2 separate regions of the Homo sapiens genome follow, and region 2 is linked to region 1. Evidence: fine-mapped expression QTL. A gene starts in region 1. The other region holds a variant in brackets. All regions are shown on one strand. Distances are from middle to middle. Region 1 holds the start of SESN2 (sestrin 2). Region 2 has its middle 17 kb from the start of MED18.

Evidence for each region. PIP is the estimated chance that this variant, and not a neighbour inherited with it, causes the effect.
Region 2: its variant is the best candidate, but not a certain one, in a credible set for the expression of SESN2 in neutrophils (BLUEPRINT, PIP 0.59).

The regions. Positions count from the first base shown.
Region 1 is chr1:28,256,869-28,262,239 of GRCh38, forward strand. It overlaps SESN2 (sestrin 2), which reads left to right and starts at 2,650. Exons shown (of 10, transcript NM_031459.5): 1 at 2,650-3,069. The coding sequence starts at 2,980. RefSeq lists enhancers at 2,221-2,400, 2,393-3,241 and silencers at 2,511-2,720, 3,501-3,560.
Region 2 is chr1:28,309,099-28,314,469 of GRCh38, forward strand. No RefSeq gene overlaps it. Among named protein-coding and RNA genes, the nearest start is that of MED18, 17 kb to the right of the region's middle. RefSeq lists an enhancer at 4,539-5,039. The variant T/A (reference allele first, on the strand shown) is at 2,357.

The DNA of each region.
Region 1 (5,371 bases):
ACTACAGGCGTGCACCACCACGCTTGGCTAATTTTTGTATATTTAGTAGAGATGGGGTTTCACGATGTTGGCCAGGATGATCTTGAACTCCTGACCTCAGGTGATCTGCCTGCCTTTGCCTCCCAAAGTGCTGGGATCACAGGCGTGAGCCACCATGCCCACCCAAGGAGTTTGATCTTAATTCTGTAGCTGATGAAATACCAGTGAAGCCTTTTGATCTGGACTTTGACATTACATAGTAAATTTTTTTTTTTTTTTGAGACAGAATCTCACTCTGTCACCCAGGCTAGAGTGCAGTGGCACGATCTCGGCTCACTGCAAGCTCTGCCTCCTGGGTTCACGCCATTCTCCTGCCTCAGCCTCCCAAGTAGCTGGGACTACAGGCACCCGCCACCACGCCTGGCTAATTTTTTGTATTTTTAGTAGAGACGGGGTTTCACCATGTTAGCCAGGATGGTCTTGATCTGACCTCGTGATCCGCCCACCTCGGCCTCCCAAAGTGCTGGGATTACAGGCGTGAGCCACCACGCCTGGCCACATAGTAAATTTTTTAAATGAAAGCTGAAGCTGACACAGGGTAGTTTAGAGAGGAAGTTGATGCAAAGGAAGATTCCGTGACCAAGGGCATATGATTGTCAGGACATTTTGCTAGGTGACATAGAGCAGGAGATGGATGTCAAGATGTAGACCCTGCCAGCCAGGCGCGGTGGCTCATGCCTATAATGCCAGCACTTTGGGAGGCTGAGGCGGGCAGAGCACAAGGTCAGGAGTTCGAGACCAGCCTGATCAACATGGTGAAACCCTGTCTCCACTAAAAATACAAAAATTAGCCGGGTGTGGTGGCACTTGCCTGTAATCCCAGCTACTCAGGAGGCTGAGGCAGGAGAATTGCTTGAACCTGGGAGGCAGAGGTTGCAGTGAGCCAAGATCGGGCCACTGCACTCCAGCCTGGGAGACAGAGTGCGACTCTGTTTAAAAAAAAAAAAAAAAAAAAAAAAAAGATGTTGACCCTGCCCTCAAGGAGTTTACAATTAAAAAGATCAGATAAGCCAGACTCAGTGGTGCACACCTGTAACCCCAGTGATTGATTTGGGGGGCTGAGGAGGGAATATCGCTTGAGCCCAGGAATTTGAAGCTGCAGCGTGCTATGATCATGCCACTGTACTCCAGTCTGGGTGACAGAGCTAGACCCCATCTCTAAAAAACAATACTAATAAAAAGAAAAAAGGGTCAGATAAAACATGTACATAGAAAATTACAATACAAGGCAGAATGTGGCTGGACATGGTGGCTCATGCCTATAATCCTAGCACTTTGGGAGGCTGAGGTGAGAGAATCGCTTGAGCTCAGGAGTTTGAGACCAGCCTGGGCAACATATTGAGACCCTGTCTCTATTTACTAAAAAACAAAAAACAAAAACAAAAAAACAGAAAACAAAAAAACAAAAAACAAAAAAAACTAGGTAGAATGTGATACATGTGAAAAGAGATCCAGCTCAAGTGCCTTGGGAGCTCAGGGGAGGGTGAGATTAATCTCTTTTTCCCAAGAATCTGGAGGCAGGAAACCAAGTCGGTTTCATCTTTGGAATTGTAAGCTTAGACTTAGAAGTCTCAGAGGGGGACTTGGGGGTCTTATCCACCCTCACCCCTGGCAGGATTCCCTGTCTAGAATAAACAATAACTTTAAAATGGAAACAAAAAAAGGAGCTCTGAAGGAAAACTGTGAAGGAAGAGGCTCCGTTTGAAATGAATAGAAAATGAATTTAGCTTGGAGGTGCTGAGGTGTTGGTAGAGGCAACTTTCTGGCAAGAGGCGAGTTGAAGGCCAGGAAGTGAATGAGATCAGGGAGAGTGTCTGGAGGGAAGAGGGGCAAAAACAAACTGGGGAAGCACCCACGTTTTAGGAAGTGGGTGGTGAAAGAGGAGTCAGAGAAGGCCAGAGGGAGAGGTGAGCAAAGATCCAGCAGAACACCTTGTTACAAAGTTTCGAGGAGGGTGGGAGGGGTGGAAGCCAGGACGGGTAGCAGAAGGAAGAAAACTTCCAGCAATAGGGATTGAGGTTCCACACGAAGTTACCAATGACATTTCAAGGAATGAAGGCTTTTCCTGAGGCTCCACAAATAAGGTGAATTCCCTGTGTCTCGCATCTTTGGAGCTTCCCCGAGGCCAGGGGGAGCAGGGTTGTGCCCTCTGACCTCTAAATATCTGGGGTTCAGTTCTATAATTAGCAGCACCGGATAGGACGCGAGCCAAACCTCTCTTAACCCTAGCCAGTCCCTCCAGGAACTGAAAAGATGAAGAATTCATTTAGGAGATTTCACACTCGGCTGTTTGGCCTAGCCCAGTGAAGTCCCTTTTCATCACGCAACCCTAATGACTCTTAGGGCTGTCACTGCCGTCTGGTGTTGCCAGGGATCTGACTAAACCGTCTTGCAAAAGTTTGCAGCATTCACCCGAGGCGGACTACAACTCCCAGAATTCCGGGCGCTCCCCGGTGCTGATTGGCGGAGCCCGTGACTCCAGGGGGCGGAGTTTCCCCCGCCTCCCCGGGGAAACAGACCTCTGATTGGCTGGACCGCCGGGCTTTTGTGTCCCCGCCCTCCCCCGGGGACCGCAGCGGGCTGAACTGCTGGTGTCAGAGCCCGGCGAGCGCTGGCAGTTCCGCGGCGGGGATGCTGAGGAGCGCTGGGTCCGGGAGCAGCCCTGGCCCCTGCGGACTTCCGAGGCCGTGAAAACCCCTGCGCTGCGGCCCTTCCCAGGCCCCCGAGGCCGTTCGCCGTTCCCGAAGCCCGACTGGGGGAAGAGTCCAGCACCAAAGCGGCCGTTCTCGGATTCCGGAGCGTTCTGGAGCCCCGAGAGACGCCCCGGGGTTCTAGAAGCTCCCCGGCGGCGCCCAGTCCCGGCTTCATTCGGGCGTCCCTCCGAAACCCACTCGGGTGCACGGGTCGTCGGCGAGCCGCGACCGGGTCCTGGCGCGCACCATGATCGTGGCGGACTCCGAGTGCCGCGCAGAGCTCAAGGACTACCTGCGGTTCGCCCCGGGCGGCGTCGGCGACTCGGGCCCCGGAGAGGTAAGCGGCGGCCGCGCGACGCCCCTCTTCCCTGGAACCCCGAACCGCGTCTGAGCCTCAGGCTGTCCGGAGCTGAGTCGGTGTGTCCTGGGCTCGGGGAGGGAAAGCCGAGCGCGTAACCCGGGACCCGGGTTGCATCAACTGGCAGCCGCGGCCCTCGGCACCCCTCCCCCACTCTGTCTCCCCTCTCCCTCCTTCTCCCCCTCCCTCTCCCCCTCCTCCCTCCCTCTCCCCCTCTCCCTCACCGCCCCACCCCAGGGCCGCGGATCCTTCCTCGGCTCCCTCGGACTCCTGGCCAATGAGGGAGAAGCCTTCTGGAGGCTCTCCGAGCTTTGGGCTCCTGAGCGTCTTCAAGTCCAGGCAAATCCCGGCCGGAGCGGCCAGACCACTCCTCCTCCCCGCCCCCTTCCGCGGAGTCCCTTCCTCTTCGCGGGGGCCGGCGGGCAGAGGACCCTTCCTGGGGTGCCTCCCGGCTCCTGTCCCCCAGCGCGGGGCGTAGGCACCTGGGACTGGCCAGTGAAAGTCGACCTCATCCTATGTCCACCGCACTCCTGCTTTGGAGGGAGAGCGCAGGGGCTCTGGGGGCTTGGCGGGCCGCCCGGTACGCGGCGGCGGCAGCCAAAGCTGGGGGGAGAGGGGACAACCCTGGTCGCGGCTTCCGAAGCCAAGCGCGGGTTAGGCTGCGCCCTGCTAAGTAAGTGGTCTGAAGGCCCAGAAGTTTGTTTTCCAGAAATTCCTCCCCCACCCTCCCTTCGCGCCGCTCCCCTCCACCCCCCCGCATTCGCATCCCGGCATAGCCCGCAGGGGCTTTGCAGGGAGACCGGGAATTAGGCTGGACCTAACCAGACTGACAGTTCGCACTCCCCCACCACTACCAGCAGCAGCGATAATGGACATCTTATCATTTATTATGCACCTACTAGATACCAGGCTCTGAGTTTTTTTCGCCTTTAACCTAAGTCCTCAGGACTAAACCAGCAATACAAGCTACGCTATAGCCCCATTTTACAGGAAGAACATTGAGGCCCACGATGGGCTCAGAAAGAGGCTTTCTTCATTAACCCCACTGAATATCTTGTTCTTTGGCCTTATGATTTCGGAGATTGCACGGCACTAGGAGCTTCTAGTTGCTTTAGTTTACAGGCCTAGAGTGTGGTGGAAGTTGTATTCTGGACCTGGGATTTGGTGGAGTGCTATGACCCCAGGAAAATCCCTGCTTTTCTCTTAGTAACGTGGTTTCTGGGGATCCTACCTCCGTCGGTGTATAGTTTGTGCCCTGGTTTTTGTTAGCTTGCTTACCCTTCTCTGCCGTGATTTAGGAGCGCCATGTGGAGGAATGGCTCTTCTCCTGCAGCTTCTCAGCTGTGTGACTTCTTTGGAAAGATGGAAATAATGTTACTATTGAGAACACCTGAACACTAGAGAGCAAGAGTGCTGGGTTCATGTCCCAGCCCTCCTGCTAACTTGCAGTGTGTGGCTTAGCCAGTAATCACTTCTCTGATCTGTGGTTTCTTCCCATGGGGATTTTACAGTATCTCTAAGGGATTGTTGGGAGAATTAACTCAGAATACAAGCAAAAGCTGAAGCACTGTGACTGGAACATAGTAACTGCGTGATACTTGCTTGCTATTATCAGAACGTGGCCATGGCACGCACAGCTTTCTCCAGAGTGTCTCACAAGGGGGTGCCTGAGCCTGTTCCTGAGATCAGACACTGTACACCCCTCTCTGGGTCAGTGCCTGGTCTAGGGAGAAAAGGCTTTGAGGGAGGGATCTTTACACAGAAGCCATGTTTCCTCAGTGGAGAAAACTGCTGCTATCTGGGAGGTTTCTTTTTCTTATCTTTTTTTTTTTTTTTTTTTGAGATGGAGTCTTGCTCTGTTGCCCAGGCTGGAGTGCAGTGGCACGATCTCAGCTCACTGCAACCTCCATCTCCCAGGTTCAAGCAATTCTCCTGCCTCAGCCTCCCTAGTAGTTGGGATTACAGGCACCCGCCACCATGCCCAGCTAATTTTTGTATTTTCAGTAGAAACAGAGTTTCAGCATGTTGGCCAGGCTGATCTTGAACTCCTAACCTCAGGTGATCCACCTGCCTTGGCCTCCCAAAGTGCTGAGATTACCGGCATGAGCCACCGCACCTGGCCTATCTGGGAGATTTCTGTGTATTCCTCTCTCGAGAAAAGAGGACCTTCGGACGGTTTCTGCTTTGAGTGGTGGCATCCTTAGAAGACAGCAGGGTGCTGATCTTTGAGTCAGGTGCCCGAGGTCCAAGAGAAGACCCAGGCGTGCAGCTCCCTTAACTC
Region 2 (5,371 bases), 52 kb after region 1:
ACTGAAAAATACAAAAAATTAACCGGGTGTGGTGGCACATGCCTGTAGTCCCAGCTACTTGGGAGGCTGAGGCAAGAGAATGGCGTGAACCCAGGAGGCAGAGCTTGCAGTGAGCCGAGATCGCGCCACTGCACTCCAGCCTGGGTGACACAGCGAGACTCTGTCTCAAAAAATAAATAAATAAATAAATAATTCACACAGTGATCTTGCCACTGCACACCAGCCTGGGCAACAAACTGAGACTCTATCTCTAAAAGTATAATAATACTCTGAGTGCAGAGGCTTATGCCTGTAATGCCAGCACTTTGGGAGGCTGAGGCAGGCAGATCAAGTGAGGCCAGGAATTCAAGACCAGCCTGGGTAACATGGCGAAACCCCATCTCTACTACAAATACAAAAATTAGCTGGGCATGGTGGTGCATGCCTGTAATTCCAGCTACTCCAGAAACTAAGGCACGAGAATTGCTTGAACCCAGGAGGTGGAGCTTGCAGTGAGCTGTGATTGTACCAGTGCACGGCACTTCAGCCTGGGCAACAAAAATGAGACTGTCTCCAAAAAAAGAGAAAAAAGTAATAATAATAATAATGATTCAACCACATCCCTTGAATTAGTTTCTTATAGCTGTTGCAATAAATTACCACAAATTTAGTGACTTAAAACAACAGAAATATACTCCCCTGCAGTTCCGGAGGCCAGAAGTGTATAATAAGTCTTAAGGGGCTGAAATCAAGGCATTGGCAGGGCTGGTTGCTTCTAAAGACTCCAGGGAAGAACTATGCCTTGCCTCTTCCAGCGACTGGTGGCTGTTGGATCCCTCAACTTGAGTTTGCATCACTCCAATCTCTGCTTTCATCATCTCATTGCCTTCTCTTCTGCAGTCAAATCCTTCTCTACTTCCCTCTTATAAGGATATGTATGATTACATTTAGGGCCCACCTGGATAATCCAGGATAATCTCCCTATCTCAACATTCTTAACTGAATCCCTTCTGCAAAGCAATTATGTTATATATAAGGTAACACTGACAGGTTCCAGAGATTAGGGCTTGAGCATCATTGAGAGGGATTATTCAGGCTACCACTCTCCTTGATTTAAAATGTCTTTTGGCTGGGCACAGTGGCTCACGCCTGTAATCCCAGCACTTTGGGAGGCCAAGGCGGGCGGATCATGAGGTCAAGAGATTGAGACCATCCTGGCCAACATGGTGAAACCCCATCTCTACTAAAAATACAAAAATTAGCCGGGCATGGTAGTGGGCACCTGTAGTCCCAGCTACTCAGGAGGCTGAGGCAGGAGAATCGCTTGAACCTGGGAGGTGGAGGTTGCAGTGAGCTGAGATCGCGCCACTACACTCCAGCCTGGTGACAGAGTGAGACTCCATCTCAATAAATGAATAAATAGATAAATAAATAAACAAAATGTCTTTTCTCTTCTAACACCAGGAAATGAATCAAGTGATCAATAGGATAACAGTGATACAACCAGCCTGGTGCTTCTGTCTATGATAGTTGTGCTTTGCTTTTTTTTGTTTTTTTAAGTCAGTACATTTTTATTCAAGGAATTTCATGTTGTGATTTTTTCCCACTGTCCACCAAGGTCACTATAGATCCTCTAAAGAGCTGGAGTCAAAATTTATCTTCAAGTTAGCCCTTTTTAATGGAACTGAGGCATATTTTAATCTAGTTGTCCTGTCAGCCCATAATTCTTTTATTTTGGCTTCTGTCATCTCCTTTTAATGTGGATATAGTAGCTGGGCACAGTGGCTCCTGCCTGTAATCCCAGCACTTTGGGAGGCTGAGGTGGGTGGATTATCTGGGGTCAGGAGTTCGAGACCAGCCTGGCTAACATGGTGAAACCCCATCTCTACTAAAAATACAAAATTAGGCTGGGCGTGGTGGCTCACGCCTGTAATCCCAGCACTTTGGGAGGCCAAGGCAGGCGGATCACCTGAGGTCAGGAGTCCAAGACCAGTCTAGCCAACATGGTGAAACCCCGTCTCTACTAAAAATACAAAAATTAGCTGGGTGTGGTGTTGGGAGTCTGTAGTCCCAGCTACTCAGGAGGCTAAGGCAGGAGAATCACTTGAACCTGGGAGGTGGAGGTTGCAGTCAGCTGAGATTGCGCCACTGCGCTCCAGTCTGGGTGACAGAGCGAGACTCCGCCTCAAAAAAAGAAAAAAAAATTAGCTGGGCATGGTGGCACATGCCTATAATCCCAGCTACTCAGCAGGCAAGGCTGAAGAATCGCCTAAACCTGGGAGGCGGAGGTTGCAGTGAGCTGAGATTGCACCATTGTGCTCCAGCCTGGGTGACAAGAGTAAAACTCCATCTCAAAAAAAATTAAAAAAAAAAATAA[T/A]AATAATAATAATATGGGTACACTGAAGAAGACTTCAAAATTCACCAAGAATGTTTGGAATCTAATTTTTTAACCAACTTACTTTAGGGTCATTTTTAGCGTACGTGGATCTTCCTGGTTCTCAATTTGACACCCTCTCTAAACATGAATGAGTTTAAATCATATTCATTCCTAAGCAATCACACTCAAGAATAAGTACAGATGTGTGGAATATGCCAATACCTTTAACTCCAGATATCGTGTTCTCAAGATAAAAGCCTTTAAAACAAAAAGCCATCTTATGTATCAAGTCAGCATGAAATTGAAATACAAAATTAATATAGCTGAGGTTTTCCCTCATATCCTATGCTTTTAAATTATCTATTCTACAATCCTAGAATCAACATTTTTTTATTAAGAGACAGGGTCGGCCGGGCATGGTGGCTCACGCCTGTAATCCCAGCACTTTGGGAGGCCGAGGCGGGCAGATCACCTGAGGTTGGGAGTTTGAGACCAGCCTGACCAACATGGAGAAATCCCATCTCTACAAAAAATACAAAATTAGCTGGGCGTGGTGGCACATGCCTGTAATCCCAGCTACTTGGAAGGCTGAGGCGGGAGAATCGCTTCAACCTGGGAGGCGGAGGTTGCGGTGAGCCGAGATCCCGCCATTGCACTCCAGCCTGGGCAACAAGAGCCTGAAACTCCATCCCAAAAAAAGAGACAGGGTCTGTCTTTGTTGCCCAGGCTGGAGTACAGTGGTGCCATCAAAGCTCAGCACAGCCTCCAACTCCAGAGCTCGATCCTCCTGCCTCTGCCTCCCCTTCCTGAGCAGCTGCAACTACAGGCACATGCCTCGATACCCAGCCAATTAAAAAAAAAAAACAAACTCATACTGAACAATGAGTTCTGGGATGCAAAACAGGATTTATTTTTTGTACTTATCCATAAATATATATATATAAGTGCGTGCTGGTTGCTTTTTGTTGTTGTTGTTATTAGACCTCAAGACCATTGGGAATGTTTTTTTGTTTTTGTTTTTGTTTTTTTGAGACGGAATCTTGCTCTGTCGCCCAGGTTGGAGTGCAGTGGCAGGATCTCTGCTCACTGCAAGCTCCGCCTCCCGGGTTCATGCCATTCTCCTGCCTCAGCCCCCCAAATAGCTGGGACTACAGGCGCCTGCCACCACGCCCGGCTAATTTTTTGTATTTTTAGTAGAGACAGGGTTTCACCGTGTTAGCCAGGATGGTCTCGATCTCCTGACCTCGTGATCCACCCGCCTCAGCCTCCCAAAGTGCTGGGATTACAGGCATAAGCCACCGCACCCGGCTTATGTTTTTGTATTTTTAGTAGAGACGGGGTTTCACCGTGTTAGCCAGGATGGTCTCGATCTCCTGACCTCATGATCCACCTTCCTCGGCCTCCCAAAGTGCTGGGATTACAGGCATGAGCCATCGCGCCCGGCCTGGAATGGGTGGTTTTTTTACTACCTCTGGGTGAATGAGAAAGTACACTACAATAGCAAGAGAGCAGGAAGGGCAATTTATTATTTCTTTTCTTTTTTCTTTTTTTTTTTTTTTTTTGAGACGGAGTTTCACTCTTGTTGCCCAGGCTGGAGTGCGGTGGTGTGATCTCGGCTCACTGCAACCTCCGCCTCCTGGGTTCAAGCGATTCTCCTGTCAGCCTCCCGAGTAGCTGGGATTACAGGCACTCGCCACTACGCCTGGCTAAGTTTTGGTATTTTTTTAGTAGAGACAGGGTTTCACTATGTTGACCAGGCTGGTCTTGAACTCTTGATGTCAGGTGATCCGCCTGCCTCAGACTCCCAAAATGCTGGGATTATAGGCATGAGCCACCGCACCCAGCCAGGAGGGGCAATTTCCATTTGGAGTGAAGGAAGGGGCAGATTTGGGCGCAGGATTCTAATAATTGTTTATGAAGAGTTTCTATGTTTCATGAATTTTACATCTTTTATCTCTAAAAGACAATTTTGGCTGGACACAGTGGCTCTCACCTGTAATCCCAGCACTTTAGAAGGCTGAGGTAGGAGGACCACTTGAGTCCAAAAGTTTGAGACCAGCTTGGGCAACATAGGGAGATCCTATCTCAATTAAAAAATGAGCCAGGCTTGGTGGCACATGCCTGTGGTCCCAGCTACTCAGGGGGTGGACTGAGGTAGGATGATCGCTTGTGCCTGGGAGGTTGAGGCTGTAGTGAGCCAAGATAGCGCCACTGCACTCCAACCTGAGCAACAGAGCAAGAGCCTGTCTCAAAAAAATAAATAAAATAAAAATAAAAAGGTGGGCATTTTATAGAATAAGGAAGTTTAAATCTGAAAGGATTAAGCCACTTGCCCAAAGTCTTATAGCCAGTGAGAAGCCAGAGCCAGGATGTGAACTCAGGTCTGCATGATATGGATGCCAAAAGCCCAGGTCCTGGCCACCGTGCCAAGCTGCCTCTTGAGAAATAGGAGCTCCCCAGCCTCTAAAACATTACCCTCTTCCTGACATTGGCCCTGGAAGGTTGTTAGACCAGAACAACAACCAGGAGATGTTGCATGCAACTTAGGCACCCCACTTCAGTCATCTGTGATGCCTCAAGGACCAGAGTTCACAGTCTGTGCTTGGCACCCCCGTCAGAGCTTTGACAAGCAATGTGTTTGTTAGACATGTTGTCCTTTCCAGGCTCAACCAAACAGCTCCAGCCTGCCCGCGCTGACCAGCAGAGCAGGCCTCCAGGCTGAGTCACCGCCCAGGGGTGTTTCACAACCAACCTGTCTGTGCATTGAGGCAGCAGAGGCAGGAAAGGTCACTGGGTGGCCCATGTCACCTTGAGCTCCTGGACAGAAAGGTGGAGCCTGGCTCACCTGTACCCATCCAGTTCTCACCCGAGTTTTCTTTCTCTTCTTGTAGGCTCTCTCTTTAACCTGAGGTATTATCCTGAGCCAAGGGAAGTTTCAACAAGCTCCAGTTCCTCATCTGTAAGATGGGAACTACATACATATTTAAATTATTGTGCATCCTACATGCCCTGTAT